Regions from separate parts of the Homo sapiens genome. Here regions 2 and 3 are each linked to region 1. Evidence: fine-mapped expression QTL. A gene starts in region 1. Each other region holds a variant in brackets. All regions are shown on one strand. Distances are between the middles of the regions.

Region 1 (10,363 bases):
CTGGGTAAATTCAACCAACTTAACAATTAGGTGTCAAAACATCAGTATGAAGAATTAACTCCAGGAGCTCAATCTTTTAAATTTCATGGTAAATAAAAGAGGCTCAGAGAAGACTCTGATTTATTAAAACAAGGATAAATCACATGAATCACTGACGCGAAGGTCAGATTGTCGATTCACTCTGGTGAGTGTTATGCTAAGTTAGGCTAGCCCTTCAGCTAAAAATGACTTTATTCTATTGAAACTCCTGTTCAACCTATATAGCGTTTAAGGCAGGTACTCCAAATATAATTGACTTAAATTGAATGGCTTTATTAATTTCAAATTAGTAATGAGTGAATATAAATGTAAGAGTTTAAAAAAAAGTTTTGTAAAACTATGTAACATTGTTTTCCATTTGGCTAAGTTCAAATGTACTAAATTTGCAATTCTTGTTCAAAACATTTAATGTAACCCATTAAACTTGTTCATCAAAAACATACTGTGTCCAGAGATCAATTGTGCAATGGCTTCATTTATTTGGTTTTATGTTTTATAATCTGCCTTGTTCCACAAAGGATATGAGTCATCTTAAAAGAATATAATTCAATCAAATGGAAAAGTATAATTAGATAAACATCAGAATCAAGAAAAACAAGGTAGAACAGAAGCTCAAGACCATAGGAAAAGATAAAATATTGATATTAGGTTATGAATTTTTATATGATTATTAAAATTGAGTTGCAAATTTGTTCATTTCCTAGTTGCCAAGTTAGAAAGGGAAATATAATCAATGATTTGATTCTCATTTTGCATGATGAAAAGAACACACACAAACACACACACACAAGTTGTTCAGGGTAAGTAAAGCTTTTCTTTGGCATTTAAAGTTAAATGGAATTTCTTGCATGAGTCTTCAAACAGAAACTATAGAAAGTACCATGATCATAACCACATTTCGAAAGTAACATAATAGTAAGTTTCCTCTGACTGTATTAATAAAATCCCTCAGTGTGGGCATATGGGGGGGTGTTAAGGATGCAAAACAAGGTACCAAAGTACAGCTTCTGAAGATCTGGCTAGACTTCTGGTCTAACAGCTAGTATTGGAAGGGAATAGGTTGACGTCATGGCCTTTGTTCAGCCAACCCCCCGTAAACATCATTTCTCTCAATTAAGCTTCTGATCAAATTTAGCAACAGAAAATTCATATTCTCTGGCATGTACAGAAACAAATGCATTTTGTATCACTGTTGAGGGGAGACCAGTAGACAACAATCACTCTTTATGTATTCACTATATCTGAAATTCAAGGTCATACAAATTTACTTCTGTATATTTTTTTCTGCAATCAACAATTCTGATTTTAGCACAAGTGAATTGAGTGGATCCTGTTGAATTTAAACAAACAAAAAATTATGGGCTGGGATTTTAAAAACAATAGTAAATGGCATTTAGCAAGAAAGGAATAGAGGTTTCTAAAATACAGCCTTTAGGAAGATAAAGAGAGGAAATCCAGGTCTTGGATTGCATTCTGGTGGTGCTTGTGGGGGCGGAGTGCTGGGGGATCAGGAGGTAGGACCCAAAAGTGAGTCAACCAATCCCAGAGGCACTGCGCATTTGGTTGTAGGACACACAGAAGAGAAAAATACCTCTTCAAATCTGAGATTAGAGCTTTTATTTGACTGTGATTCCAAAGCCAAAGTAATAGCAGTTAAACTGAGCAGTTAAAGGCTCAACTCCTACTTGTAAAATGAACAAATAAGTGCTTATAAGTAACAAGGTAAAGAGAGCTTACTGTAACCAAAGGGGAGGGCTTTTTTGAAAAGCTTAAAGTGTGCAAGGAAGAGCCAGGTAAATTAATTGCTCAATACCCTGGGTTACAAATTTAAGAAGTGTAAAATGTAATTATCTTTATTACAGGAGGGAATTTTGGCTTTGTTTTAATAAATCATAACAAATTAATTTTTTTCATAAGTTCCCTCCCACTGTTGGTTCCTGCAGTCTTATTAACTTTTATAGGAAAGTTTTATTTCCTTATCCATCTAGGAAGAAAATAAGTAGGTTGGAGAAGCAATAGTAATAAAGTATGGCCTACCATATTGTGTAAAAATAAGTCATTTGAGTAATATGAAGTGAAGATGGTAAAGATGCATTAAAATGTCAGAAAGAAAACCTGGGAGCATGCCCAGATAATATTGTTAAGCAGAGACTGAAAGAAGTTCACACTGACTCATGAAATTCATGTGATGGAAAAAAGATGAAATCAAAACAGAAAATGTCATAGTGTAAAAATAAAGCAAATAAAGTTTGATGCAGTTAACCTTGTTTTTCTTTTTTTTTTTCAAAATGATATAACATTTTAAAGCAGGAAGACACTGTATCTTGCAAACCCTCATTTCACAATCCCCTGGCTGTCAAATTTGGAAACTGATGTGTTTCTATACCGAGGAGAAAACAGTTTAAATTGTGTATCTATATCACACATTTTGAATCATTTAAGAATCACAGACACTTCTACATGTTTTATTTCTACTTTTGCCTGTGATAAAAGACATGATAATTAGATCAAACCTGAAAAACTCAACTCTAAAATAAGTGAATACATCACTTATTAACCAAATCATTGTTTCCTCTGGCGTAACTTACAATTTTCTTTAAAACACGACTTTTACTTTTTAAATTGTGTTTGAGAGCACAGTTGAAGTTGGCATGATTACCAGTGAGACTGGAAATTTTGCAAGCTTAGACATGAAATGAACTTAAGAGTTGGGGAGAATTACCTCATAACCTTGATGACATATTACAGAAAGATAGCATATGGTCCTAAAGATGTCAGAATTGAAATATAAATGTTAAAATAACTGAGTTTGCCTATTTATACAAAGAGGCAATTTTTGAAATTCAATTAAATTTCACCGGCTACAGAACAATTCTGTGATTCTAAATTGTGGTTTTTAGATGAAAGCTTGAAACACAGTTCATTCATTCAACAAATAACTAATGGGTACTTATTCTGCATAAGATGCAGAAGATTACAGGATTTAAAAAAAAACAGATTCAAGATTCTGTCCTATTTGAGCTTATACTGAGTCACTTCTCCAAATCTCTATACCTAAGTGACTATAAAATTGGAGCTTACAGTGATGCATTTTTCAAAACTTTAAGCCTTATTGCTGAATATAAAATAAAAAATGATAGTCTGGGAAGAGGGAATCTTGCCAAAAGCTCTGATGTATAAACTTTACACCTAGAGGAGAAAAAAAGCATTAATACATAACCAGTTTCTGAGAAATACAGAGCATAACATCGAGTTGGAAGTTAGGCTGGGCACAAGGCTGCCTCTGCTGGCTGACCCGGTACATCTTTCCAGCAGAATCTCAACTCCCGACACCTGTATCAAAGTTGCCACTCTTAAAACACATCCCTTCACGTAAGCAGAGGCTCCTAAATACTCAGCACAACAATATCCCAGCCTCATCGATCTCCAGAATAATCTGACTTCTAGAAGGACCTTCTCTAAATTGGCCCTAACGTGTTGACGGTAAGGGTTTGCCCCATCGATTTTATATACCAACTAGCTAGCTCTGAAATACACAAAAATCCACAGCGACTTCTACATGCCACTAATAACCCTTTGCCTGTCTACATGTTTTGGCTAGAAAGATGGGAAGAACGCATCTGCTAATCCAGCCGGAAAAACACAGTGACATATTTCCACCTGAGCTGCTGAAAATCCAACGGTCTTCTCCCCAAATAAGCCCCATGCCAACCTGTCCTCCCCACTCTCGTACTGGCGCGCACCCCCACGAGCCCCCCAAGGGGTGGGCGGGGAAGGGTCAATCTCTCCTTCGCCCCCGCTCGGCCTCCCGAGCTCAAGCAGAGGTTTTCAGGTTCACAGGGGGCTACGCCCAGCGCCATTAGCACACCTCCGAGCGCTCCACCGAGCCCCCGGCGGGAGGCAAGTTTGGCCGGTCCTGGACCCTGCTCGCGGCCTCTCGGCGGCAGCATCAGCGGCGGGCGGCGGCGAGGGCTGGGCCCCGCCTCACCACCTACCTACAGGGCGGGGGCGCCGGCTCCTGGGGTCCGGGAGAAGGGGATCGGTCGCATGCATTTCTGGGAGCGGTGGCCTCTGCTGCTGGGCGCCGGGGAGCGCATCCTCTCGGCGGGTGGAAGGAGGGGTCAGGGGAGGACCGTACGCCGAGGAGGAGCAAGAGGAGGAGGCGGGAGCTCCGAGGCGCGCGCCCGCGGGGCCCCGCGTCCGGATCGGGTGTGCGCAGCCGCCGCAGTCGGGGTGTCTTAGGCCTCTTCCCACGCGCGACGCCTCGCCAGCCCCGCAGCTGCGCCCCCCGTCAGGGCATGGGCCGCTACGGGGTCCCGGGCCCGGCTGAAGGCGGGCAGTCACGGGTGGCGCGACGCTGTGCAGACGCCCGCCTCTAGCTCCTCCCGGCCAGTGGCGCGCGCTGCGCCTCACAGCGGTTGCGGGGGCCTGGGAGCTCGCGCCGGGCTCTGCCGCTCGGACTGCAGTTGCGGCATCCTCCCCGCCCCCCGCGACCTCCGAGCTGGGAGGCTGGGCACCCCGGCTACCCGCGGCTGCTGCAGCCTCCGCTGCCGCGATCCCGGCGGCTCCGCCCCGGAGAGCTGCGCGTGCGGCCTCCGCAGGCCTCGGCCCTTTGTGGCGCCTCCCGAGTGCGGGCGCCTTGCTGCCCCAGCGAACCGCCGCCTGGCAGCGGCACCTAGGAGGGTCCTCTTACCTCACCCCGGGCCGCTTCCCCCTTACAGTTGGCCCGCCTGGCCCCTACTCTTCGTGGGAAGTAAGGCTTTGACAGCAGAGCAGGAGTTAGAGCTTTTCCCCAGCTTTAAAGCCCTTTGACTTTCCTTCCAGCTCAGGACCGATGGCCACAATAAATTCATCCTGTGTCCCTTCTGGCGTTGCGTTTAACAGAGGGGCCCACCATCTCCTTCCCCCTCCCGTTCCCGGTACACCATCCTGGATGCTGCCAAATTGCAGTCATTACAGCAATAAGAACATAGCAGTTGGGCCCTCCAGCCGACTCTTGGCAGAGACTCGAGAGAACCTTGGAGGGGGAAGGTTTGCATCAGCTGCGGGGCCTGTGCCTGTGAGCTCCCCATCCCCAGTTGGGTGCTGTTCCCTCTGCGGTCCCATGACCAGCACTGCAACATGACTAGGAGGATCTGGCCGTGGAGTTCATTCACTCTTATACGCAGAAAAATATCCCAAGGAAGGGCCTGCAACTACTCTGTTAACAGTGTGTTACAGGCCTTCCACACAGATAAACTAGATAGCAGCCTCCTCTGGGTTGTTGACGCAGCTTAAGCTGTAATAACCTCTCTGGAAGGCGGAGCAAAGCGTTAACAGTGGTGGCTTTGGCATTTCAGCAGCAGGTGGTCATGTTATACTGTCTTGCAAATGTGGAATAATTGCCCAGTTTTGCACTAAGCACGTATTAATTTAGACGTCAGGTTTATATCTTTGGGATTTGAATGTAAAGATGTTGGATTTTTTTTTTCTGTAGCCATTGTGTTATTTGTAAATTGTTTAGCATTTAGTAAGGGAAAATTAGGTTCCTAAAGTATAAAGAGCTGATTGCATTGTATCAAAGGAACATGGTTTGAGATCTCCAGGGAAGCTGAGCTGCTCTCACAGTTCTTTGATGAGTGCTTTTATGATTTTGCAATCTAAGGTTATTGAAAATCAGGCAAAAGAAAAACATGTTCCCTGGCAAGGACAAATTGTGACTAAATAGCTAAGATTTTTTGAGATAGTTCTTTTAAGCAAATTGAAGGTTGGGTGTGAGGCCCTGTGGGAGCTGCACTGCGCTTGTCCAGGAAGCACCCAGTGGGGTGTGACTTGGCTGCTTCCTGACACTGGTTGATCTAGAGCCCCACTTTATTTTCAAAAGATAACTATTATTATTTATGATATTTTCCCAAACTTAGAATTACTTGATTATAGGAATATGTATGTACATATCTGATGTATAAGTAACACGTTGAAGTCACTTAGGAGAATTTGGCAGTTGCTTACTCTTTAACAAAATTTTTAAGTTTTGAATGTAGTTTCTGAAGGAAGTGTCCATTGACTTACAAGTTTTCCCTGTTTCTCATCCTTTTACTATCAAGAGGCCCCTGTTGTTTTTCTCTCTATGGACTCCATGTTTTGTAAATAAATTAAGCAGTGATGTTTTTATTAGACAAAAACCTATAACTGAGTATGAATTTTTAAAGTTGTGACCATCAATTATAAAACGTCAGTCTTCTGGCCAGGCGCAGTGGCTCACGCTTGTAATCCCAGCACTTTGGGAGGCCGAGGCGGGCGGATCACGAGGTCAAGAGATCGAGACCATCCTGGCCAACATGGTGAAACCGCATCTCTACTAAAAATACAAAAAAAAAAAAAAAAATTAGCTGGGTGTGGTGGGTCCTGTAGTCCCAGCTACTTGGGAGGCTGAGGCAGGAGATTCACTAGAAACCGGGATGCAGAGGTTGCAGCGAGCGGAGATTGCACCACTGCACTCCAGCCTGGTGACAGAGCGAAACTCCATCTCAAAAAAAAAAAAAAGGTCTTCCAAAGATATTGCAAGGAATGTAAGAATCCATCTTTATGAACTCCTCTAGGACTGCATGCTGTATCATATGCTTCTTATAACATTTTTATTATACTGAAAGTCCTGATATAATAAAGATTTCTGCTCCCCAGCTAAGGGAGTACAAACTCCTCCTAAAGATTCTTCACTTGTTCCTTTCCATTAACTGATTTACCTAAGCCTTGGCTTTATAGATAAATCGGAAGAAATGAAACTCTTCCTTGCATGTGTTGTCCAGTACTGTATGCCTTAGCTACTTGTAGCCGTTTAAATTTAAATTATGGCTAGACTGTGCTTTTGGATAGCACAAACTAGAACATTTTCATTATTGCAGAAAATCCTTTTGAACAGTGCTGCCCTAAATAGAAGGTCAAATTTTAATTGGGAGATAAGATATAATACATGAAATAATTTGGGAAATCTTAGTATACTACAGATCAAACCTCAGTAGAAAGTGTACTTCTTAAGAACATGGTAATCTTTAAGAATTCAGGCTCTGGCTTCAGACTACAGCTCCACCACGTGCTGACCTTGGGTAAACTACTTAACCTCAGTTGCTTTATCCGTAAAGGATATGCTTTATCCATAAAGAATGGTAACAGTACCAACTTTATAGGGTGGATATAGGAATTAAAGGAGATAATCCCAAGTGGTTCTTAAAGTCTAGAATGTGGCCATCAATCAAAGGTATTACTAGAATAATATACTTTATTATGATAAAGTTTTTAAAAATGGTATCCCTAACACTTTTCACTGTTCTTGGCTGCGGAAGTTACTTGGTAAATGCTGAATTAATGAAAAAATATAATACCACACTGATTTTATGGCTGTGAGGGCCACCTTTAAATATGAAAACTGGCCTTTCTCTGTTGAAGGGTATGGGCCATTGGAGGATAATTTAGGTGGATTTGTCATTTAACTTTTGCAGGAATAAACAACCTTTGTATGATGAGACTTTGGAGTAGATAAGAGAAGCAGAGATCCCTTCCTCTCTTAAAGGAAGAAGAGAGGGATCACTTCACTCCGCCATTTGTTTGTTTCGCTGAGCCTGTGGGAGGCAGCTGGATCTCTGGGTTCAGGCAACAGGATTTCTCCCAAGTGATTTTCTAGAGGGCTAAGGTAGGCGGGCTTAGAGAAACATTGCCAAACAGTGGCAATCCTGCAAATGTGTTCGGTATTTTTCTTACCTATCTATCTAAAGACAATTCTTGTAATGAAGAAGCATGATTAGTATTTCTGTTTTTGAATACAACACTAGTAATGTCTCATGAAACTAGAATTCTAAAAATATTGGCAAATATTGCTGTAACATTGCCCAAATGAAAGGCTCCTGAGTCTCTGGTTGATCTAGAGCTCTACTGTATTTTCTTTTCTGTTTTTTTTTTTTTTTCTTCCAGACAGGGTCTCATTAGGTCACCCAGGCTAGAGTGCAACCTCCAACTCCCAGCTCCATTGATCTTCCCACCTCAGCCTCCCAAGTAGCTGGGACTACAGTCATGTACCACCACACCCGGCTAATTTTTGTATTTTTTGTAGAGATGGAGTTTCGCCATGTTGCCCAGGCTGGTCCCAAACTCCTAGGCTCAAGCAATCCATCTGCCTCAGTCTGCCAAAGTGCTGGGACTACAGACATGAGCCCCTGCGCCTGGCCTATTTTCACACCTGTAATCCCAGCACTTTGGGAGGCCGAGGAGGGTGGATCACTTGAGGTCAGGAGTTTGAGACAAGCCTGGCCAACACGATGAAACTCTGTCTCTACTAAAAATACAAAACTTAGCTGGGTATGGTGGCACATGCCTGTATCCCACCTACTTGGGAGGCTGAGGCAGGAGAATCACTTGAACCCGAGAGGGAGAGGTTGCGCTGCGCTCAGATCGCGCTTATGCACTCCAGCCTGGGCGACGGAGCCGGACTTCATCTCAAAAAAAAAAAAAAAAAAAAAGACAATGATTATTGTGTATGATATTTTGTCCCAAATTTAGAATTACTTGATTATAGGAATGTATATGTACATATGTGATGTATAAATAACAGGATGAAGTCACTTAGGAGAATTTGGGAGTTGCTTACTCTTTAACAAAATTTGTAAGTTTTGAGTGTAGTTTCAAAACTGGTTAAGTAATGACCTTGGAGCTATTGAAAATATTGAAATGTCTTTGGAAGGTCTCTCAAAAGCTGTGGGAGAGGAGTTTTATGCATTAAGTGATGAGCTTAGGCTACTAGCACCAAGAAAATTCACTCTTTAGTGAACCTATCCTTCTTTCTCTAGCGCAGAGAGAAACACCTCTTTTCATACACTTACTTGACTCAGGCCGGTTGGGACACAGGAGGCAAATACTGATGATCATGTGTGGAGGGATACGAGTAGCCATCCTGCAACTAAAGAGGCAGAAGAGAGTTTATTATTTAATAGTATTTAAGGCAGTGGCTCATTTTCACAAACTGGGGTCATTTGTCTACTGGTTAATTATGATAATATCTTGAGTTTTGAGAAAAATGTAAGTGTCCTTTTGTGGATAGACCTATGTTCAGTGTTTCATTTGGCTTGTTATAAATCTGAAGAGGAGTTAGAAATCACCTTTTTGTGGCGTCTTTGTGGCGTCTACCAGAGTGTACTGAGAAAGAAATATTGCTGTATATAGACATGGATTGTTGTCCGCATAGCTGTCATCATGTCATACTTATGGCTGATTATTTAGAGTTAGCCCAATAAATTTTTCCTTTTCTTTTATTCACAGCTAATTTAAAAATATCTGCTTTTGAATAATTTCCTGTTGTCTTATTTCTTCTACGAATAGTCTGTTCAGTAGCTTGAGAATTCATTACATAGTTTTTACACTTTCTGAAAAACATATTCAAATAAGCTGCTACAACATTGGTGCTAAAATATAATTTAAAATTTTGAAATGAATCCCTAAAAAAGTGACATTATGTGGTGGTGGTTTGTATTACTGGGTAAAAGAAATTTACAGTGATTATGCTAATAGGGGTTTTTTTCAAGGGAAATAATTACAGATTAATAAATAGTTGTAAAAAATGTACAGGGAAGTCCTGTGTTTCCTCCTAGTTTTCTCCCCATGATTAATGTCTTACAAAATTACATTACAATATCAAAACTAGGAAATTGACATTGGTACAATCTTGAGAGCTTATTCAGATCTCACCAGTTTTTTTTCTTGAGACAGAGTCTCACTCTGTTGCCGAGGCTGGAGCGCAGTGGCACCGTGTTAGCTCACTGCAACCGCCATCTCCTGGGTTTGAGCAATTCTCCTGCCTTAGCTTCCCGAGTAGCTGCGATTACAGGCGCCCACCACCACACCCGGCTAGTTTTTATATTTTTAGTAGAGACGGGATTTCACCATGTTGGCCAGGCTGGTCTCGAACTCCTGACCTCAGGCGATCCACCTGCCTCGGCCTCCCAAAGTGCTGGGATTACAGGCGTGAGCCACCGCATCCAGCCAGGTTTCACCAGTTTTATGTACATTCATGCATGTTTGTGTGTGTGTGTGTGTGTGTGTGTGTGTGTGTTTATATGCAACATTATCATATCTTGTATCACCACCACAATAAAATACAGAGCTATCACCATGAGGCTCCCATAAGCTACTCCTTTAGAATCATACTGATCTTCCTCTTCACCACATCCCTATTTCTGGCAACCACTAATCTCCCATCTCTATAATTTCAAGAATGCTATATAAATTGAATCATATAGTACGTAACCTTTTAGATTGGCTTTTTTCCTCATTCAGTATAATTCCCTTGAGATCTATCCAA
Region 2 (10,363 bases), 24 kb before region 1:
TCTTATCCAGAATTACTCTATCTAGTAGCAGTATTAATCCACCCCTCTATTTAGAGTTACACAGGCATATTTCAAGATAAATTATAAGAAAGGAAAGACTGGGTGACCCTCAAATCACTAATTTCAATCCAAAATTATTAAAATAGGGTATTTTAAACTCTATTTTGATGTTAAAGAGCGAAACGTCAACAAAACAGGTTTGGCAAAGGACTATTTATCAAACACAGTCACACAACGATTATGAAACCACATGATAAGATAGCACACAAAGAAAACATTGGCTATTTAACTACTCAGGAGGAAAAACTAGGTGTTCCTAGTTTTTCCTAGGTGGAAGGGGGAAGCAGGCTAAAAAGCAGTTTTTAGGGTTTCAGATATGTAATTGTGGCAGCAGGCACAGCATCAGGGTAAATCTTCCTTTTGACTTCCTCAGAACACCAGTTGAGATTTATGTAAGGTGGTATAATTTAGTTTAGAGAAAACTGAGATTGCATCAGTTTGGCCTCACCCTTGGCCTGACATTTTATCCTTCTCTCCAGAGATCTTGCTTGGACTGCCCTTAAGTACGCTGCTCCAGAGAACTCTGCTCTACATTGTCAGAAACCAGCTTTCAAGTAAGTTCTGTTGCTAGTTCCACATGGTAATTCCACAGTTAAGTCAGAAGGCATTTGAAAAGATGTATAACTTTGGATGGCTCTTTTCTGATTATAGGCTGAAGGGGGTTCTTTTCTCTTTGGTTTGCCTTTTGCTTTTAATAGCTTGACCATTTCTGGCTTCCACTGCATTGTAAGAGCTAAACTACAGGTTTGTCAGTCAGTGTTTCTCTCTCTGTCTCTTTCTCTCTCTCCCTGCTCCTACCCCCTCTTCTCTCCATTCTCCTCTCTCCATCTCTCTCATTTCCTAGTTACAAATCATGTTGTCTTACTGTCTTAAGAGCATCACTGATTTCATCCTTGTGCCACTGTCCCTATGCTCCCAAGATCACATTTCAGCATTTTAGGATACGTTTTTTGTTTCATTTTTAGAATACTTTTCAGAAGAGGTCATGATAAGCAAGACAATTTTACATTTCTGAGTTGAAAAAACTGTGCTGCTCTTCCAGAACAGTTTTGGTTTGTATTCTCAGTTTCAGGGGCTCCCCTGACTCTACATTTTAGGAACAAGAAGAGGTTAACATTGAGCAGGTTGTTCATGAACCGGCAGTTACCTTTACTACAGGAATCACTTTGGATTCAGGCTGAGAAGGCACTATAGCTCTTAAAATCACTATGTAGGGCAAGTGAAGAAGAAAGAAAAGAAAGAAGAAGAAAGTAAGGAGGAGGAGGAAGGAGGAGGTGGGAGAAAGAAGGAAGGGGGAGAAGCGGGAAGGGGGAGGAGGAAGAAGAGGAGGAAGAGGAGCAGGAAGAGGAGCAGGAAGAAAGGGAGGAGGTGAGGAAGGGAGACGGGGAGGAAGGGGAGGAGAAGCATGACCACCATTTTGACCTAAACTCATATCTTATCCACAAATAAATTCAAAATGGATCACAGACTTAAATATAAAACATAATGCTATAAAATTTTCAGAAAAGAAAAACAGGAGAGAATCTTCAGAACATACAGCTAGGCAAAGAGATCTTAGAATTCAGACCAAAAGCACAATTCATAAAAGGAGAAACTGATAAATTGAACCACATCAAAATTAAAACCTTTTGCTCTGCAACTCTGTTAACTGGATGAAAAGACAAACTACAGTCCGGGAGAAAATATTTGCAAATCACATATCCAACAAAAGACTAGAATGTGTACAATTCAACAGTAAAAACCTAAACAATTCAATTAGAAAATGGGCAAAAGATAGGAAAGGAGATGCCACTAAAGAAGATACACTATGGCTAATAATAAGCACATGAAAATGTTAAACTTCACTAACCATTAAGGAAATACAAATTAAAACCATAATGAGATATCACTACATACTTATCAGAATAGCTAAGATAAAAATAAAAAATATTGACACCACCAAATGACAATGCAGACAAACTGGATTACTCAGACTTTGCTGATGGGAATGTCAAATGTTACAACCATTCCAGAAAAGAGTATTGCACTTTTTTATAAAACTAAAAATACACTTATCTTTTGACCCAGCAATTGCACTCTCAGACAATTATCTCAGGGAAATGAAAACTCATGCTCATACAAAAACTTGTACATAAATGATTGTAGCATCTAGCATCTTTGTTCATAAATAGCCCAAACTGGAAACAACCTAAATGCCCTTCAATGGGTAAATGACTAAAAAGCTGTGATTCATCCATACTATGGAATGCTACTGTGCAATAAAAAGGAACAAACTATCGATACATGCAACAGCTTTGAGGGATGTCAAGGGAGTAATGCTGAAGGGAAGAAAAAGCTAAATGCCAAAGGTTACATACTATATGATTCCATTCACCTAGTATTCTTGAAATGACAAATTATAGTGGTTGTCAGAGGAGGCAGGCAGATGGAAGGAGTGAGTAGGGATACAAAAAGGTAGCATGTGGGATCCTTTTAATGCAACTGTTCTGTATCTTGACTGATGGTGACCACAGAAATCTACATGTGATATAACTGCATGGAACTAAATACACACAAACACACATACAATGAATGCTCTGAATAAGGCTGGTGGATTGTATCAATATGAATTTCCTAGTTGTGATACTGTACTATGGATAAAGAATACAGGGTATCTATTACTCCTTACAACTAACTACATGTGAATCTAAAATTATCTCAAAATAAAAACTTTGGAGATCTTATTTATTCTAAATATCCTATCTTTCTGGTGCCTCATCCATTAGATGCCTGATGTCTTCCTTCCCTAATCTGGTTACTCTCTGTAGTCATAATAGCAGAAAATATTTTACTACAATTGGTAGTTTAACTTGTGCTTCCCCAAAACCTTATTCATGATTTACTATTCCTAACTGGAGCATGCCTTTTGGAGATGGCCTTATGTTTAATACTGACTCTTATGCTGCATGAAATGGACAAAATATTTTCTGAGTCTTAGTTGCATCACTGGTAAAATGGAGATAAATTAACCGATGTCATAGATTTATTTTGAAGGCAATTAAAATAATAAGTAAAACACTCAGTACATAGTAGGTCCTTAAATTGTTTCTGTCCTTTTCCCATTATCAACCTAAAATCTAGCTTAATTACTAGATAAAAACATCAACAACAAACTTTGGTTTTGGCTCCAAGGCTCATGTTTAGAAAATAATAAATGCATCTCTAATGAGCACAGCCTGGGGACTGGGGATGGAATGAGGCTAAATTCAGTTCTTAACATGTATTTCAATTTAGGAGAAACATAATGTTTTTAAGCCTATGTTCTCTGAGTCTGAAAACATTCTGGCTTATCAAAATGTTTTACAAATGTTTAGCATATAATTCATTTTATTATGTTTAGTGAGTGCCACATAGACATTTAAATCTGTAAATGGTAACCAATCATATACTACATTACTTCTATTCAGATATCAACAAATTTATTTATGTTGGACAAGTTCCAGCCTTAAAAATGACTCTGATTCAAAAATATAATTTCACCCATTTCACCTACCTACAAAAATATTTCTTAGTAATAGACTCCCCACAAGGTGATAAGCTTTAAATGTGTCAGAGATTTTCAGTTATAGTCCAACCTATTAAGCTACAGAACAGTAGGAACAAAGCACTTAGGATTTAAAATTCAAGGTAGGTTGCTAAACATGGGATTTGGAGCAATTTGCAGGTCAGAGCATGACAGCTGGATTCGCTGAGCAACACTGGCCTGAGAGAAGTGTCAAAGCTAGAAAGAGAAGAACCAAATGTTACACTCCTCTAATATGAATAAAATGGATGAAGCAAAGTATAGTTTACTTCTCCTGGTTACCTGCTCTATTTATGAACAAGCACAAAACACAAAATGCGAAGTAATACTTGAGGACAAAGTCCCCTCAAATATTTCTTTAAAGTACTGATAACAATTTTGTAAAATGAATGCTTACCGAGCAAAATAACTTTGTTTCCGTTCCTTCTTCTCTTCCTTGGTATCCATAATACACAATCAAAAGTGCAAAGTATTTGAAAAAGTCCCTCTTTTTAATCAGTGAGTCGTAACCCTGTAAGAAAAGATAACAAAGCAACTGTAAACTTAAAAGTTTACACTGGCCAATGTGAAAAATAAAATGGAGTAGAACTACATGGACTAAAACAAATGAAAAATAAACTTTAACCAGGAAACAGTCACATGAGTCAAATATGAAATGCAAATGTCCATGGGAGAAACTACAATCAGAATGGAGATGTTAAACTATAAAGCAAAACCTGATGGAAAACCAAACTGCAGTATTTTCCTCACAACTAACAACTATTTTAAAACATGCCAAAATAAAAACCTTCACTGACTTTGGAAGATTGTAGCCTAACTATGTAGATGCTAATTATTTAAAAAAAAATTGAACTCATAATCACTCTTCCCAAGCAATTAATAAGGCATATGTCTCAGATAATTATGTAAAATGGCTCACTTAGGTGTTTTACAAGAATGTTTTTTTAAAAAAATAAAAATAACTTCAGCACTCTATTTTATTTTCGGAAACATGCCAGCAAGTACATCCCACTTGAGCAAATGTGGAAATGAAAGTACAAAGACACAGGAAGCT[G/C]TTCCTCAGCATGGCTTTAAACCCTTGCGTCTCCCTCTTCTCCACCCCTGCGACCCTCACCCACGCTTGCCAGCAGTGGCTTAAGCCTATAATATAAAAAAAGGTTGTCTCCAGATCAAGCTTCCTCAAATACCACTTTTATCATGCCACTCCCCTGCTCAAAAATTTCCAATTGTCTACTTATTCAGTGATTCACCAGTCTAAATTTCTGCAGAGCACTAACATTCCTAAAATTTGTCCTTTCACCCTGAAGCAATAGTTTGTTCACCTATCAAATTTAAATCAAAAAAAGCAGGCTGTGCGGTGGCTCACACCTGTAATCCCAGCACTTTGGGAGGCCGAGGCAGGCAGAACACTTGAGATTGGTAGTTTGAGACCGGCCTGGCCAACAGGGTGAAACCACATCTCTACCAAAAATACCAAAAATTAGACAGGCATGGTGGTGCACGCCTGCAGTCCCAGCTACTCCGGAGGTTGAGGCGCGAGAATCGCTTGAACTCAGGAGGCAGAGGTTGCAGTGAGCCAAGATGGCACCACCGCACTCCAGCCTGGGTAACAAAGGGAGACTCTGTCTCAAAAAAAAATTAGTAAATATAAATAAATAAAGCAAAGTGTATTCACAATCAAAATTATTTACTAATTCATTTCAATTCAATAAACAAATTAATCCACAATACATACTACATGAAAGGGAGTGTGATAAGTCCCAGAGGTCAAAGATAAAGACATGATATTTGCTCTAACAGTATATATTGTCTTTCAGGAGAGACACTTAGGATTTCAAGACAATGTGATATGTACTGCTGAAAAATAGACCTCAGGAATACTTAATTAGCTAAATTTAGCCATTTTCTAATGTATATTTTCAAAATATCATTAAAAAAACATATATATAATTTCTATTTGCCAATTAAAAACAAATAACACTTAACACTATGCAAGGCCCACCCCAGGTATCCTGAGCACACACTAAGGTTGTAGGTTAAGAATGGATTTCCGGCCAGGCGCAGGGGCTCACACCTGTAATCCCAGCACTTTGGGAGGCCGAGGTGGGTGGATCACCTGAGGTCAGGAGTTCGGGACCAGCCTGGCCAACATAGTGAAACCCCATCTCTCTAAAAATACAAAAATTAGCCGGGCGTGGTGGCAGGTGCCTGTAATCCCAGCACTTGGGAGGCTGAGGCAGGAGAATCATTTGAACCTGGGAGGCGGAGGTTGCAGTGAGCCGAGACCACTCCATTGCACTCCAGCCTGGGCAACAAGAGCAAAACTCCGTCTAAAAAAAAAAAAAAAAAAAATTGCATTTCCCAGGTAAAGGGTACGAGCAAGCAGGTTTCAATTGAACAAAAGCAAGAAGACAAAATTGTTCCCTTCTGTTCCAGGGTAAAGTGAGCTGAGGATGAAGACATGGGCAGGATCTGGGTCACGGAAAGCCTTGTATGCTGCTCTAAGGAGCTTGGACTTAATCCTAGCTGGCTATGTGCAGCCCACCCCCTTCACTGCACCTTGTCAGAGGCCATCAATTGCTCATGCTGAACCCAGCGGCAGCATTTGCAGAGCCATTACCAAATCCATCAGAGCTGGTCCATGAGATAAAACTAATTTTCTCATCCCCAAGGTACATGGAAGGGCGCCACCAGAGGGTTCTCCATGAGGGAGTGTAGCATAATCAGACGGCAGAGGTAGAGGATTGACGTGAGAGGATTTAAGGACAGGGTGAAGTAGATTCATTAAAAAGAAATTACAGTCAAACTAATTGAGGGAGGAGCACCCAAAACTAGGCAGCAGTAGTTGACATAGAAAGAGGAGGGATGGACTCAAGAAATACTTAGGAGACTGATGAGTTGACATTTGATGAGTCATGCAGTGTAGATAACAAGGAAAGTAAGGAATGAAGGATGTCCTCCAAGTTTCTGCTTCAGGAACTGCGTGGGTTACGGCACCGAAGATCTAGTACAATATACATGAAAAGGGCAGGCTGCATGTAGGACAGGGGAGCAGAAGGAGGTAAGAAATCGGTTGTGGACATTGTGCCTTTGAGACGGCTATGGGATAGTGGAGTTGGAGACATTCACCAGACGTTTGATTACACTGAAAGCACAGAAGGGCAGTGAAGGCTAGAGGAAAGGAATTAGAAATTATCAGCATATGCTTGTGGTTAGGAAGAAAAGGAGAAAAAACAATATGATGATGAGATCACCTTGGAAGCCTGACAACTATTCATTCAGCCCTGTACAGAAACATGGGAGTACACAGTCTCAGCTCTTACTAGTTTATCTTCACATCCCTGACTTGGGCTTCACCCTCAAAGAGTTTTCCATCCAGTCAGGAAAATATGACTGTGCAGATAACTAAACTGTAGGGTAGTAACTTGGGGCTGTCCAATGAATAATACTAAGTAAGAATCCAAAAGATGTGAAGTTCAATTCTGCTTGAGGTGATAAACCTTTCAGAGTGGTTAGGATTTCAATGGGTAAAGTGGTTAGGATTTCAATTCCAGAAAGTAGGAATGCCAGAGCAAAGGGATAGAAGTGAAAGGGGCTAGGCACACTCAGGCAAGGAAAGCATGGCTACCAGGTACGGAAAGGGAACTAATCTTGATGCCTGCCTACCAACAGCCATTTACTTCAACATATTATCCCTATGTTATCTTTTTATCTTTCAACCACACTATGATTTAGATGTCCTTATTTCCATTAAACTGATGCTGAGAGGTACTAATTAATTTCCTTAATTCAACAGCACTAGCTGTGGTGCGGCAGCAATTTAAATCCAGTCTGGTATACACTCCAGTGTCTTTCAATAACCTTTGGAGCCAGAAAGCATTTGGAGATGAGCTAGAAAAAGTAGTCCGGAGTCAACAACATCCAATGCTGCAGCACAGAATTCGCAAGTTAAGGCACATGTACCTAGCCACTGGGACAGGGAGGTCATTGAGGACCTCCAACGGGACTGCATTAGTGACGTATTGGGAGTGGAAGCCATGCTACCATGAGTTGGGGTAGTTAGTACTCATTCAAGAATTCGAGTGCAAGGAGAAAGAAGAAAAAGGAAAGATGGCGGCTGAGTGTCTAACTCTCATGAGCTCAGTTTCACACTGTGGTTTGAACCCCCTGGGCGTCTCCCCAACTCTGCACCTTTATCCTCACTCTTTCCTCAGGCACGAGGCAACCTTGCTAGGCTCCTCCTTCTGACAAGGCCCAATTCTACTTCAAAGCCTTCCCTGACCACTTGTGTGCGCTCCTCTCCCCTAAAGAGCTTATTTCATATATCACCTATAACTTACTGCAAGGCACTTAATCATATACTGTGTGACAACAGCATTTCAATTAGTCTCCTCGCCCCAACCATAAATTCCTTCAAGTCAAATAACACCAAGTTTCACTTTTACTATACTTCCCTAAATAACTGGCACATAAGTAGGCAGAAAATCCATATAAAAGCTAAGCAAGGAGGTAAATTAATCCAGGACTGGGGATAACGTCAATTATATGGCAGACCAATACAAATCCAAAAATTCCTCCCAAATTAAGAATTACTTAGGGATGGAGGATGGAGTCTCATGCCAGCCTCCCTCAGACTCCAGGAAAGATCAGAATCCTAGGCTCTCTGCCCTGCCCTGGGTCAGGTGGTTTATTTTAAAGTTCATCTCCTACATGTTACAAAAGCAATGATTTCTATTAAATTTCCAGTCATGAATAAAAATTAAGTTACAGCAATCTAATTGGAAAATTTTTATACTGCAAGATGAGCCAGAAACTAATATTTGGTTCAAGTAGAAAAATATTAATGAAAATATGCACAAGAGAAAAAGATTAAATGATCCAATAGTTGACATCTGGTGCTGCTGTGTCTGATTACAACCAGTAAGGCTTTTTTTATTTTTCAATATCCTATTAGGTAAATGAAAAATATGCTAATCTTTGGTTTAAGTTTCTGGAAATTTTTGTATTCCCTAAACATGATAGATGCAGTTCTTACAGGTTTAGACACACCAACAGATTAACCAGAAGGAGCTCAGTAGAGAATGCTATAAAAATGATTTGCACAGAACACCACACTGCAGCCTTCATGCTTCAGTGAAGAACCAGAGCTCCTTAAATCAGTCTCTAATGGGAACTACATTTTCCATTATAAGTGGTCATAATGGGCTTCTTAAAAGCCCTTCATTCATTTAATGTTGACTTTCCTTCATTCAATACACTCTAGACTCATCTAAATGCTGACTTCTAAGAGTCTCCTGCATTTATGGTGTATTGCAGACCAAAAAGAATTTCACGAGAAAGCACAAGATGAATCTTCCATCTAAATATTTTTTTTTGCAATCTTAAATCAGGATAGTCAATTAAACTTAAATCCAGTTCATTATTCAAATAAAAATAGCACATAAAAATCCTTACCTCAAAAGAGCTGTGATGAAGACAAAGTATTTTTTGAATCATCAGAAAAGTGTTCCTTGTTTGTACACATGGCACCATTTAAAAGAACAGAACCAGCAGAGACCCCTTAACTACACCAAACTGACCCACACAGCTGTGGGTCACACAGCTGGAGGTCCTCAATGACCTCCCTGTCCCAGTGGCTAGGTACATGTGTCTTAACTTGCAAATTCTGTGCTGCAGCACTGGATGTTGTTGACTCCGGACTACTTTTTCTAGCTCATCCCCAAATGCTTTCTGGCTCCAAAGGTTATTGAAAGACACTGGAGTGTACACCAGACTGGATTTAAATAACTGCCGTACCACAGCTAGTGCTGTTGAATTCAGGAAATTAATTAATACCTCTCAGCCTGTCAGCTGTGGGTCACACAGCTGTGGACCCACATAGCAAAGCATGGCTTTTTGGATTCACCTCCAACACACTGCAGTTCCTTGAATATTCAAGTATAACAAGTCAGGACTAGAAAAACAGCAGTATATCCATGAGGCCCATCAGCTGTTTTCCCAACAACATGTTTCTTAATATACAAATGAAATGATGTCAGGAGTACACATTGAGGCTTGGTCACACTGTGTTTGGTCACGTAAGGAACAGATCAAAATGGACCTTTCTATGCAGGCATTTCCTCCTAGAAAATAGTTATATTTATACCAAAATATGACAGGTGTTCAGTCTCTCAAAGCCACACTGTCATCTAAACAAAGCAAAAATATTCAAATTTCAATGTTACACAAGGTCAGAAATTTGAACACTCCCTGTAACAGTAGAGAAACCTGGGAAGGACGCAGAACCAGATACAAACGTGTGCCACAAACTTACAAGGGTACCCAGACGCAGTGGCTCATGCCTATATTCCCAGCACTTTGGGAGGCTGAAGCAGGTGGAAGGCTTGAGGTCAGGAGTTCAAGACCAGCCTATCCAACATGGCAAAACTCCATCTCTACTAAAAACACAAAAAGTAGCCAGACGTGGTGGCACATGCCTGGTGTCCCAGCTACGCAGGTAGCTGAGGCACGAGATCAACCTGAGAGGCGGAGGTTGCAGTGAGCCTAGATTGCACCACTGCACTCCAGCCTGGGCGTCAGAGAGAGACTCTCTCTCAAAAAAAAACAAAAAACAACTTAAAGGAGAGCAATCAGATAATACCCCCCAAATAAATAAATACATGTTACAAAAACAATGCAACAACAACAAAAAAACAAAAATGAATGATTCAGCAACAAACAACTAAAAAGTTATTCCTGAAG
Region 3 (10,363 bases), 52 kb before region 1:
AGACTGCTTTAATTAGTATTAAATTCACAGTTATATATGACTCTGTTCTTAATTTTAAAATTTGGGATCCATGTGTTTTTGAAAAATGCACACTTTTGAAAAAGACGTAAATACCTTGTATGGCATTGCTCAATGTGGTAGCCACCAGCCAGTCACCGATAGTTACTACATTTAGTTAAAATTGAACTTAAAATTATTCACTTGTAAGAAATACATTTCTAGACTCATGTCCTAGTGGTTACTCTATTGGACAACACACAATACAGAATACTTCCAGCATCACAGAAAGTACTAGACAATATTGATCTAGAGCTATAGTTAGTCCTATTTGCAAGAGATTAGAGAGAAGGCTAAAGATACAGTATTTAAAATGTAACAAGTATATGCAGAAAATATGTGTACAAGGGTACATACACACACACACAAATACTTTTTATTATGTTCTCATTTGTACATTTTGAATTTTATACCATGTACAATTACATATTAAAAATATTTTAAGTAGTCTTTGAAATCTCTCTCCTACTATAATAATCTAACACACAAATATTGTCAAATTTTTTAAACTGAATTTTACTTTTCAAAAACTTATGACAAGCTTTAAACAGCTTTCTTCTAACAGGAACTACTAAGTTGACTAAGGAACCAGGCACCATGCTATGTACTTCACAAATATTAGCCTATCCTCACAAAAGCCCAATGAGGTAGGGAGTTTTATCTCTATTTTACAGATAAGAAAAGGAAGGCTGAGAAAAACTAGGGCCATTTCCCAAGGTCACAGGGCACAGTTTAGTTGTGGAGCGGGAATTCACAAGCCTAGGTTACAGCCAACTGCCACAGGGCCTCCCCGAAGCCCCTCTAAATGTGGCTATGGCATATATGTAAACGTCAACTTTAAAATAAAATCCAGTGGACTCTGAAAATTCTACAAACTATGTGGGGGCCTGAAAATTTAGTGGGCTTCAATGGATTGTGCACTCACAGAAAGACTGGAACACAGATTTGGGTTCTGGGCTTGGCTTTCTCTGTAATCAGCCCTGCAACCTGCATTGGAAATATGATAAACCCCCTGGGACTTCTAAGTAAACAAAAGCAAGAGGCTAACATGATTTTCAAGGTCCTGTCTGGCTCTAATAGTTTGCCCTTGGCGGAGAAGAGTAGGAAATGTGTTAAAGTTGTTTTGATTAAAAAAAAAAAAAAAAAATTTTTTTTTCTTTTTTATATCCAAACTAAACCATCCCAAGGGTCTTGCACTTCCCTATGTTTTTTCTAAGTCTCACATTTGATTACATTTTCCTTCCACTGCAGAATTTCTAGCCCTGGAAAAGTCCAGAAGCCAAGACAGTCAGAAGCCCATTCCTCTACAAAGGCTATTAAAAGCAAAAATAAAAACAAACAAAAAAACAACCAAAACCAAACCAAGAACAACAACAAAACACTGCTCTATAATTTGGGGCTAATAGCTCCAGGAAGAAAACTAGAAAATATCAAAATTGACCAGCCATGAGAACAGACCCATGAAAGTCTTCTTTCATACAAACTTTCTCCTTAAAATCGCCTCTGTAGGGAAATAGAGTACTAATATAAAATATGTAGCTATAGCATTATTTCATGAAAAAAAGATGTAAAACAGTATTGCAGCATGACTCCATTTTTGTGGAAAAAACAACAACAAAAAAAGCAAAATCCCTCAAGACCAAATATACACATAGATATGGATATATACAGGTTCGGTGGATGTATGAGAAAACGGTTGGTCAATGAGTGGGGAGAGAAGAACTTGCACTTTTTTGTTTTTTTGAGACAGAGTCTTGCTCTGTCACCAGGCTGGAGGGCAGTGGCGCGATCTTGGCTCACTGCAACCTCCGACTCCCTGGTTCACACGATTCTCCTGCTGAGTAGCTGGGATTGCAGGCATGCAGCACCACCATGCCCAGCTAATTTTTGTATTTTTAGTAGAGATGGGGTTTCACCATGTTGACCAGGATGGTCTCTACTTCCTGAGCTCGTGATCTGCCCACATCAGCCTCCCAAAATGCTGGGATTACAGGCATGAGCCACCGTGCCCAGCCAAGAACTTTTACTTTATAGGTATGTAATGTGGTGGTGTTGAATCTTTTGTACGGTAAGCATATATTACTTTTGTAATTATAAGGTTAACAAACAACAACAAAATTAAATATCTGCAGCTATGGCAACATTTTGCTACCTCTTGTTTAGTGGTTCATTCTTTCTCCTGAGTCCAGCTAGCTTAGTAAATTGCTGGACTGCAATCCCACATCACTTTTTTTTTAAATCAGATAGAGCTGGTCTGCCTCCCTCCAGGGACCTTCTCTTGGTTCTTTTCTTGGCTGTTCTGGCTGCAGCCTTGTCATTGCATTGTTCTGACCTTCAGGGCCTAGGCTGTTTTTTCCTGGTCGTCTAATTCTGACTTCTGCCACCTCTGACAATGGAACGAGCTCAGTCTTTGGGCAGAAACGTTTGTGTTTGAATCGTCTTGTACTTTGGATGCACATCCTTTGGCGAGTTACCAAATCTAAGCCTCAGGTTTGTTGTCCTTGACATAAAAATAATAGCCTCCAATGGGTTTTTAATGGTGATTAAAGCAAATGGTACAGAGAAAGCTTACTTTACTATTAAACACAACCTGTGCCTGGTTTCCAGGAAGAGCTTAATAAACAAAAGTTACTAATTTGTTGTGCTGCTGCTGTTATTCTTACTTGGGGATTTCAAAGAATCCAAGTAAATGAGAGAACATATAAAGCACAACATATTTAACACAAAAAAGAAGGTATGTGACAAATGCCAGGTATTAATATATGTTCATGTCCTTTTTCTCACTCTACATAAATATTAATTGTATTTAACTCTATGAATTTAGTCATCAATACAAAGCCACTTATTATTTCTAGAAGAACATCACTCTTTGAACTCCATTTCATTTTGTCATTTCATAGTTTTCCATTTCCACTGAAAATCCCCACTTATGAGCCATTATATGCCAAATTAAGTCAAACTTAAAGGCAAAGGGAGAAAAACAGTTAAAACAACAACTCACTTGAAGAAAATTTTCTCTTGGAATTCTGGCCAAATAAAAACAAAAGATTTAAGAGTAATCACTGGAAAAACCTGTGGATGTTCCTGATTCTAGTGTAACCCATGGAGACATGCATTCTTTTTTTCCTTTTTTCTAATCGTGATAATGAGATTCTTCCCACTGCTAAAACTGAAATTCATCAGTTAAAACGAAAATACTCCGGCTTCAAAGAACCAATACAGTTAGGAAAAGAGATTCTTTGGCTTTGTGTTCAATAACTAGCAATATATCCTTCAGATGGGTACACATACACACAACAGCATTTCCCCTAGCCTCAAAGAACAACCACATTCTAATAAAGACAGATAAACAGAATGCCAATCAGGGGAAACCACAACAATTCAATTTTCCTTTTCTAGGATTTCCTTGTACTGTTAAAACAGTGGTGGGTCAGCAGGTCTTAGAAGACCCCGGTAACCAAAGTGTGGGGGCCAGAAATGGCCAAAACCAAATTCTCTCTCAGAGAAGCCTTGGGGTGGGACATTTCAGAAAACCTTATAAGCATCCCCCAGTACCAGGATCAAAATGACACTGCTGCAAAATGGATGCACACTGTGTAGAATGTCTACATTGTATTATTTATAAAACAAAACAGCCCTTTGTTGAATGTACACATTGCCCCATGTGAGAATTTGGTTCCCTTTTCTAGAAGTCAGAATGCTGAGTCACGGCCTAAAAATGGTTTGGAGAAATTGATGGTGCAGACAATGGTAATATATATCTCATCTATAAATTAAGGAAGGGAACCAGAAAAGGGAACTCACTCCAGGTAATAAGAGAATTGTGTTGTGCTATAAGTCAACAAAAAGGCCTACAAATATATTTAAATATTAGGAATTTTACTGCTTATCAACCAAGAATAAGCTGACAAACACCGCAACTCAGAAGTTAATCAAATTTGGCAAAGAGAAATTTAAAGAAAGTATTTGGAAGTTGTTTATTCTCTTTTGCTTTACATTGATATTATGCACGTAGCTTATTTAACATAGTTAAATTGACTGGATGTATTAATTCCCTATGGCTGCTGTACCAAATTACCACACACTTGGTAACTTAACACACATTTATTCTCTTACAGTTCTGGAGGTCAGAAGTCTAAAATCAGACTCACCAGGCTGAAATCAAGGCGTCCACAGGGCCATCCTCCCCATTAGAGGTTCTTTTCTTGCTTTTTCCAGCTTCTAGAGCTATATTACTGGTAGCCCCTTCCTCCATTTTTCAAAGCCAGCTGCATGGCACACTGCTTTCTCTGCAGTCAAACCTCCCTCTTATATGGACACTTAGGATTGCATATAGGACCCATTCAGACAATCCAAGTTAATGTCCCTATATCAAGGCCCTTAATCACATCTGCAAGATCTCTTTGGCCATAAAAGGTAACATTCTCAGGTACCAGGGATTAGGAACTGGCTATCTTTGGGGGTCACTATTCAGCCTACCACACTGGCTAACTTAGCTTTTATGTTACAAATAATTGCAAACTGAGCATCATATCACATTAGTGTCTTAGTGTCTATGTCTAAATCATTACTATGGCTATTCAATGTATTGTCTATGATACTTGAAAAAATTCACTACTGGCAGTGAGTAGCAATAAACATATTTCTAAAGCAAAAGCAAAAGGTTTATTCAAGACTACCCTGAAATCTGCAATTAGAATATTACAGATGTGAATTTTTTATTTATGGTGGATGACTTCAAAACAGCCTCTTGGAAGTGGGAGTATTAGAAGGAAAATTTTAACAGGTAGGATTTCTAAAGAGTTAAGTCTCATTTTCATATCTAATTACTTAGATCTGCATTGAATCAGTTCATCATTGTTTATAATCCCTTACACAAAGCTGTTTATAATCCCTTACAAAGCCAAGAAAGTCTCCCAAAATATTTTTTTATTTTGCTAGAATTCCTTAGTAAAGGAAACCTTTTTAAATTATTTTTTTAGAAATGCTTTTTACTCAAAATGAACTGTATTCTCTGACTACTCAATGAATCTTATAGAAAGCAGCATTGGCATATATTTTCGTGACACATATATTTTGCTACAACAGCAATATATTGCAGTGACATAATTCTGGAA[G/A]AACAGCAAAATGTTGTTTTCTTGAAGACATTTTAGTCAAACACAAAGCATACTATCTTGAAAAATCTCAAGCAAGCACAAACTCAATGATGCCAGCGACTCTGTCATCCAATTTTAACTGACTTTCCCGTTAACTACTTAAACTGTAGAAATATTGAGGGAAATAAGGGCTAAAATACAGAATCCTGAAACGAATCAGTTTAGTATATAAACTAATACTCTACTGAAAGCCTCGTAAGGGAAACATAGTTTATGATCAGCAGAAATGGCCTGATGACAGAAAACACTTATAAGTAGCATAAAATTAGAATATGTTCTAGCTTAACTTCTCTCTCCTCTCAACTTTAAAAAATAAACTCTTATATTAATCTGACATTGCTTTTGAATAATTTTAGACATACGTACCCTTTTATGATAATATACTTTCATTGTCATAAACTAGAAGTGACCTCATAAATCATTCTGTCATTACAGGTACTTTCAGAAAGAATAATCTAATATCAGGTATGAAATTTTAAAACTTATTTTGGCAGATGCTCTCAATTTAGTTGGTTTACATCCAACATGTCCATTCAACATCTTAGAGGTATTTTTTCCAATTGCTACATGCTGGCTACTGCTTGGGAAGTGATGTTGCTCAAAAACAGAATTTCTGGGGTGGTAGACTGGTAGTACCTACTCTAAATTTTTTTCCTTCTAAAGTTAGTGCAGAACTCTGAGTCTGGATAATTCATTCACATGTAAAGGCAAACCCAAAATAGATTTTGAAGAAAAATCTTGGCCTTGCTTTCATCTTTCTGAGGGTGCATTTCCATGACAATGACCATCCAATCACAAGACGGTCTTGATCACGCTCTTAAAAAAAAATCCAACAATGGCCACCTCTCAAGTTACCAGTTTGATTTTAACCAACCACAGGTTGTGGTATAACAAAAAATAAATAAATATAATCATGCCTTGCTAAACGACAGGGATACATTCTGAGAAACGTGTCATTAGGTGATTTTGTCATTATACAAACATTATAGAATATACTTACTACAAACCCACATAGAATAGCCTATGACACACCTAGGCTATATGGTAGAACCCATTGCTACTAGGCTACAAAACTGTACAGCATGTTACTGTACTGAATCCTGTAGGCAGTTGTAACCAGTAAGTATTTGTGTATCTAAACAGGTGTAAAAACATAAAAGGTAGGCCAGGCGCGGTGGCTCACACCTGTAATCCCAGCACTTTGGGAAGCCGAGGCAGTGGATCTCTAGGTCAGGAGTTCAAGACCAGCCTGGCCAACAAAGTGAAATCCTGTCTCTACTAAAACTACAAAAATTAGCTGGGCACAGTGGCAGGTGCCTGTAATCCCAGCTACTCGGGAGGCTCAGGCAGGAGAATCATTTGAACCTGGGTGGCAGAGGTTGCAGTGAGCCAAGTTCATGCCACTGCACTCCAGCCTGGGTGACAGATTGAGACTCTGTCTCAAAAAAAAAAAAAAAAAAAAAAAAAAAAAAAAAAAAAAAAAACCAACCAAACAAAAAAAACCATAAAAGGTAAAATAAAAATATGGTATTAAAAAATGGTGTCCAGGCACGATGACTCAAGCCTGTAATCCCAGCACTTTGGGAGGCCAAAGCAGAAGAACTGCTTGAGCCCAGGAGTTTCAAGACCAGCCTAGAAAGACCCTGTCTCTACAATTTTCTTTTTTTTTTATTTAGCCAGGCATGGTGGCATCCTGAGTAGTTCCAGCTACTCAGAAGGCTGTGGTGGGAGGACCACCTGAGCCTGGGAGGTTTGAGGCTACAGTGAGCTATGATCATGCCACTGCACTCCATCTGGGGCAACAGAGCAAGACCCTGTCTCAAAAAGAAAAGAAAAAATGATATACCTGTATAGGGTCCTTACCATGTATGGTTGCTGCTCTTGGGGAGTCAGAGAGTGAGTGGTGAGTAAATGTGCTTACTGTGCTCTACTGCAGACTTTCTAAACACTGTATACTTAGGCTGCACTAAATTTATATAATTTTTTCCCTCATTCAATAATAAACTACCTTAGCTTACTATAACTTTTTTACTTTATCAGTTTTTAAATAACTTTTTGATATTTAGCTAAAAATATAAACACATTGTATAGCATACAAAAATATTTTCTTTATATGCTTATTCTATAAGCTTTTTTCTATTTCTAAAATTTTTAACTTTTTTGTTTTACTTTTTAAACTTGTCAAAAGCTAAGACATAAACACAGAGGGTCTACACAGGGTCAGGAACATCAACGTCATTGTCTTCCACCTCCACATCCTGTCCCACTGGAAGTTCTCAGGGGCAATAACACACAGGGAAGTATCCTCTCCTATGATAACAATGCCTTTTTCTGGAACACCTCCTGAAAGACCTGCCTGAGGCTGTTCTGTTTAGCTTTTTTTTTTTAATAATCAGAAAACACTCTAAAATAATAATAACTAGTGTAGTAAATACATAAACCAGTAACACAGTCATTTATCATCATTATCAAGTATTATGTACCGTAAATAATTGTATGTACTATGCTTTTCCACAGCTGGCAGTACAGTGGGTTTGTTTACACCAGCATCACTGAGTAATGTGTTGCACTATGACGGTGACAATGTTACTGGATGATAGAATTTGTTAGCCCCATCATAATCTTATGGAACCACCATCATAAATGAGGCCAGTGGCTTATGTGGAACATTACTGTATTTGGTCTTTGTCCCCAGGTTCCTGGCACAGACTTCCTAAAACACTGGAATCTCGTGAGTGATAAAGAGCGTCTTTTGTATTCTCATGAGATGACTCAAAGCTGCGGAGGGAGGGAGGTGCCTCGAGAGCTTCTAGATGGGGTCTAGCCACCAGAAAGATCCAGCCAGGATTAAAAGGTTGGAACTTTCAGCCCCACCCGACAGTCCACTTCTCAAGAGGGGAGGGGACAGCAGATAGAGTTAAATCACTAAGGCCTAGGCCTCGCGCAGTGGCTGACTCTTGTAATCCCAGCACTTTGTGAGGCTGAGGTTGGACTGATTACTTGAATCAGGAGTTCAAGACCAGCCTAGCCAAAATGGTGAAACCCCATCTCTACTAAAAATACAAAAATTATCCAGGCGTGGTGGCATGCACCTGCAGTCCCAGCTACTTGGGAGGCTGAGGCAGGAGAATTGCTTGAACCCGGGAGGCAGAGGTTGCAGTGAGCTGAGATTGCTCCACTGCACTCTAGCCTGGGTGACAGAGTGATACTCTGTCTCAAAAACAAACAAACAAACAAACAAAAATCACCAAGGGCTAATGATTTAATCAATCATGCATAGGTAATGAACCTCCAAGAAAAACCCTTAAATGTCGAAGTTCTGAAAGTTTCCAGGGTGATGAACACACTATGCGTCTGCGAAGGTGGTGCACCCAGAGAGGGCATGGAAGCTTGTTGGCACCACCCCTGAATCCCCCAACCTACCACCCCTGAGTCCCCCATACCTTGCCCTCTGCCTCTCTTCCATTGGGCTGTTCCTGAGTTATATCCTTTATAATAAACTGGTTAAGTGTAAGAAAAGTGTTTTCCTGAGTCCCCTGCGCAGTTCTAGTGAACTCTCAAACCTGAGGAGGCGGTCATGGGAAACCCCAAATTTGCAGTCAAGGTGGACAAAAGTACAGGTGGTCTGGGGACCTGGGACTTACAACAGAGCTCTTAAATCTGTGGAGTCTGAGGCTAACTCTGAGAAGTTAGTGTCAAAATTGAATGGAATTGTTGGACACTCAACTGGTGTTGGAGAACCAGAGAACACCTCTAGTGAAGGAAATAAAAGCATTTCACTCCAGAATATGCTTCTTTGACATGTTTTGAGATGGCTGTTCAGAGGGCTTGCAAACAGAAGTACCCCTGCAAAGCTGTCTTTCATGGGGGAGTTTTGCATCAATCCAGCCAGGTCTTCCCTTGTCCTGATCTAGGAAAGATTTAACTGAGAGTCGGACACCTTTAAAGATCTGAAAGAAGCATTTACCACCTATCCTCTCTGATGGCTGCCACCTATCAGGTTTCATCTGTATAACAAGACTACCTTCACAAGCCAGGCCTCCTCCTCTTCTTTCCTTCCCCATAATCTATCTTGCCACTGTAATCTTGATTTTTGGCCATGCCCTGAGCCCCATTCTTTCCGTGACCTCAAGATGGTATAGAAGCTTCTGCACCCCATTGTAGGCTTGGGTAAACACTTCATGGTCTCCCAAACACTTGGGTTCTCCTCATGAATGTTAAAAAAAAATTGTATGCTTCTCTCTTATTAATCTGCCTTTTATGAGTTCATTTTTCAGTGAAGCTTCAGAGGGTGAAGGGGAAGTTTTTCCTTAGCCCCTAGAGAGTTAAGGACTAGGAAGGGCTTTGTTATCAAAGGGACTGGCGTGTGCTCTACTCATTAAGAGGAAGAAATATGGGAAGGAGTCCCTTTTTAACACCGACCATGAAGTAGTTCTGCATCAGTCATACAACTAAGAGCAGCATGCAATTTACTGTCCCATTTTTCATGCCAATTTATATGTTCCCTGGTCTGGACTTTCCATTTTTAAATAGTATATCGTAATTTCTTTAATAAGTGCAATGATGAGAAAATATAATAGCATATGGATGATCTCAGCCTCCTTCCTCATGCTGCCTCCTAAGGGAACTCTGGGTTTGTTTCCTTTTCCTGGTTCTGAGCTTATGAACACAGGTGTGGGAAATGAATTAGGGGGAGAAGTGGAAAAAGAAATATAGTGAGAGAAGAAATAGAAGAAAATAAACCTAAAAGGAAAGAAGGGGAAAAGGTAAGGACATGAGGAGATACACTGACTGGATATGGGAAGGGTTTCAAAAAGGAGAAAGAGTTTGGGGAAGTAGCTGAGAGACATGTAAAAGGTCAGAGAGATGGAGAAAGAGGATTTTAAAGTTTTATCAAATATATGGCATTTATTACCCCCTTGGATGTTTTCTGAAAGGTGAAGTAAATATTTATTTTCAATTATTTTCTCTGATATACTTATTTCTTTGAATGTGACTTAATCCTGGGACTGGACCAAGGCATGGCTGGTTATACACAGGTGACACACGTGTACTTTTCTGAAGATGCCTTAAAGGTGGAGCATGTATGAATGAATGAATGAATGAATGAGAAACAAACTTCAATCCGGGAAAGATGAAGCAGGCTAATT

The links. PIP is the estimated chance that this variant, and not a neighbour inherited with it, causes the effect.
Region 2: its variant is fine-mapped to the expression of NCOA7 in whole blood (INTERVAL, PIP above 0.99). The same link has a PIP of 0.9 or more in monocytes and monocytes after interferon gamma.
Region 3: its variant is fine-mapped to the expression of NCOA7 in monocytes (TOPMed, PIP above 0.99).

Annotation. Positions count from the first base shown.
Region 1 is chr6:125,784,739-125,795,101 of GRCh38, reverse strand. NCOA7 (nuclear receptor coactivator 7) reads right to left here and starts at 4,142. Exons shown (of 16, transcript NM_181782.5): 1 at 4,035-4,142. RefSeq lists enhancers at 3,560-3,659, 3,855-4,355, 4,356-4,856 and silencers at 3,880-4,719, 5,310-5,409.
Region 2 is chr6:125,809,061-125,819,423 of GRCh38, reverse strand. It overlaps NCOA7 (nuclear receptor coactivator 7), which reads right to left. Exons shown (of 16, transcript NM_181782.5): 2 at 4,020-4,133. The coding sequence starts at 4,069. It overlaps NCOA7-AS1 (NCOA7 antisense RNA 1), which reads left to right and starts at 566. Exons shown (of 3, transcript NR_126386.1): 1 at 566-614. RefSeq lists an enhancer at 840-1,341. The variant G/C (reference allele first, on the strand shown) is at 4,677.
Region 3 is chr6:125,837,203-125,847,565 of GRCh38, reverse strand. The region is part of intron 2 of NCOA7 (nuclear receptor coactivator 7); the gene reads right to left. Among named protein-coding and RNA genes, the nearest start is that of NCOA7-AS1, 24 kb to the right of the region's middle. The variant G/A (reference allele first, on the strand shown) is at 5,175.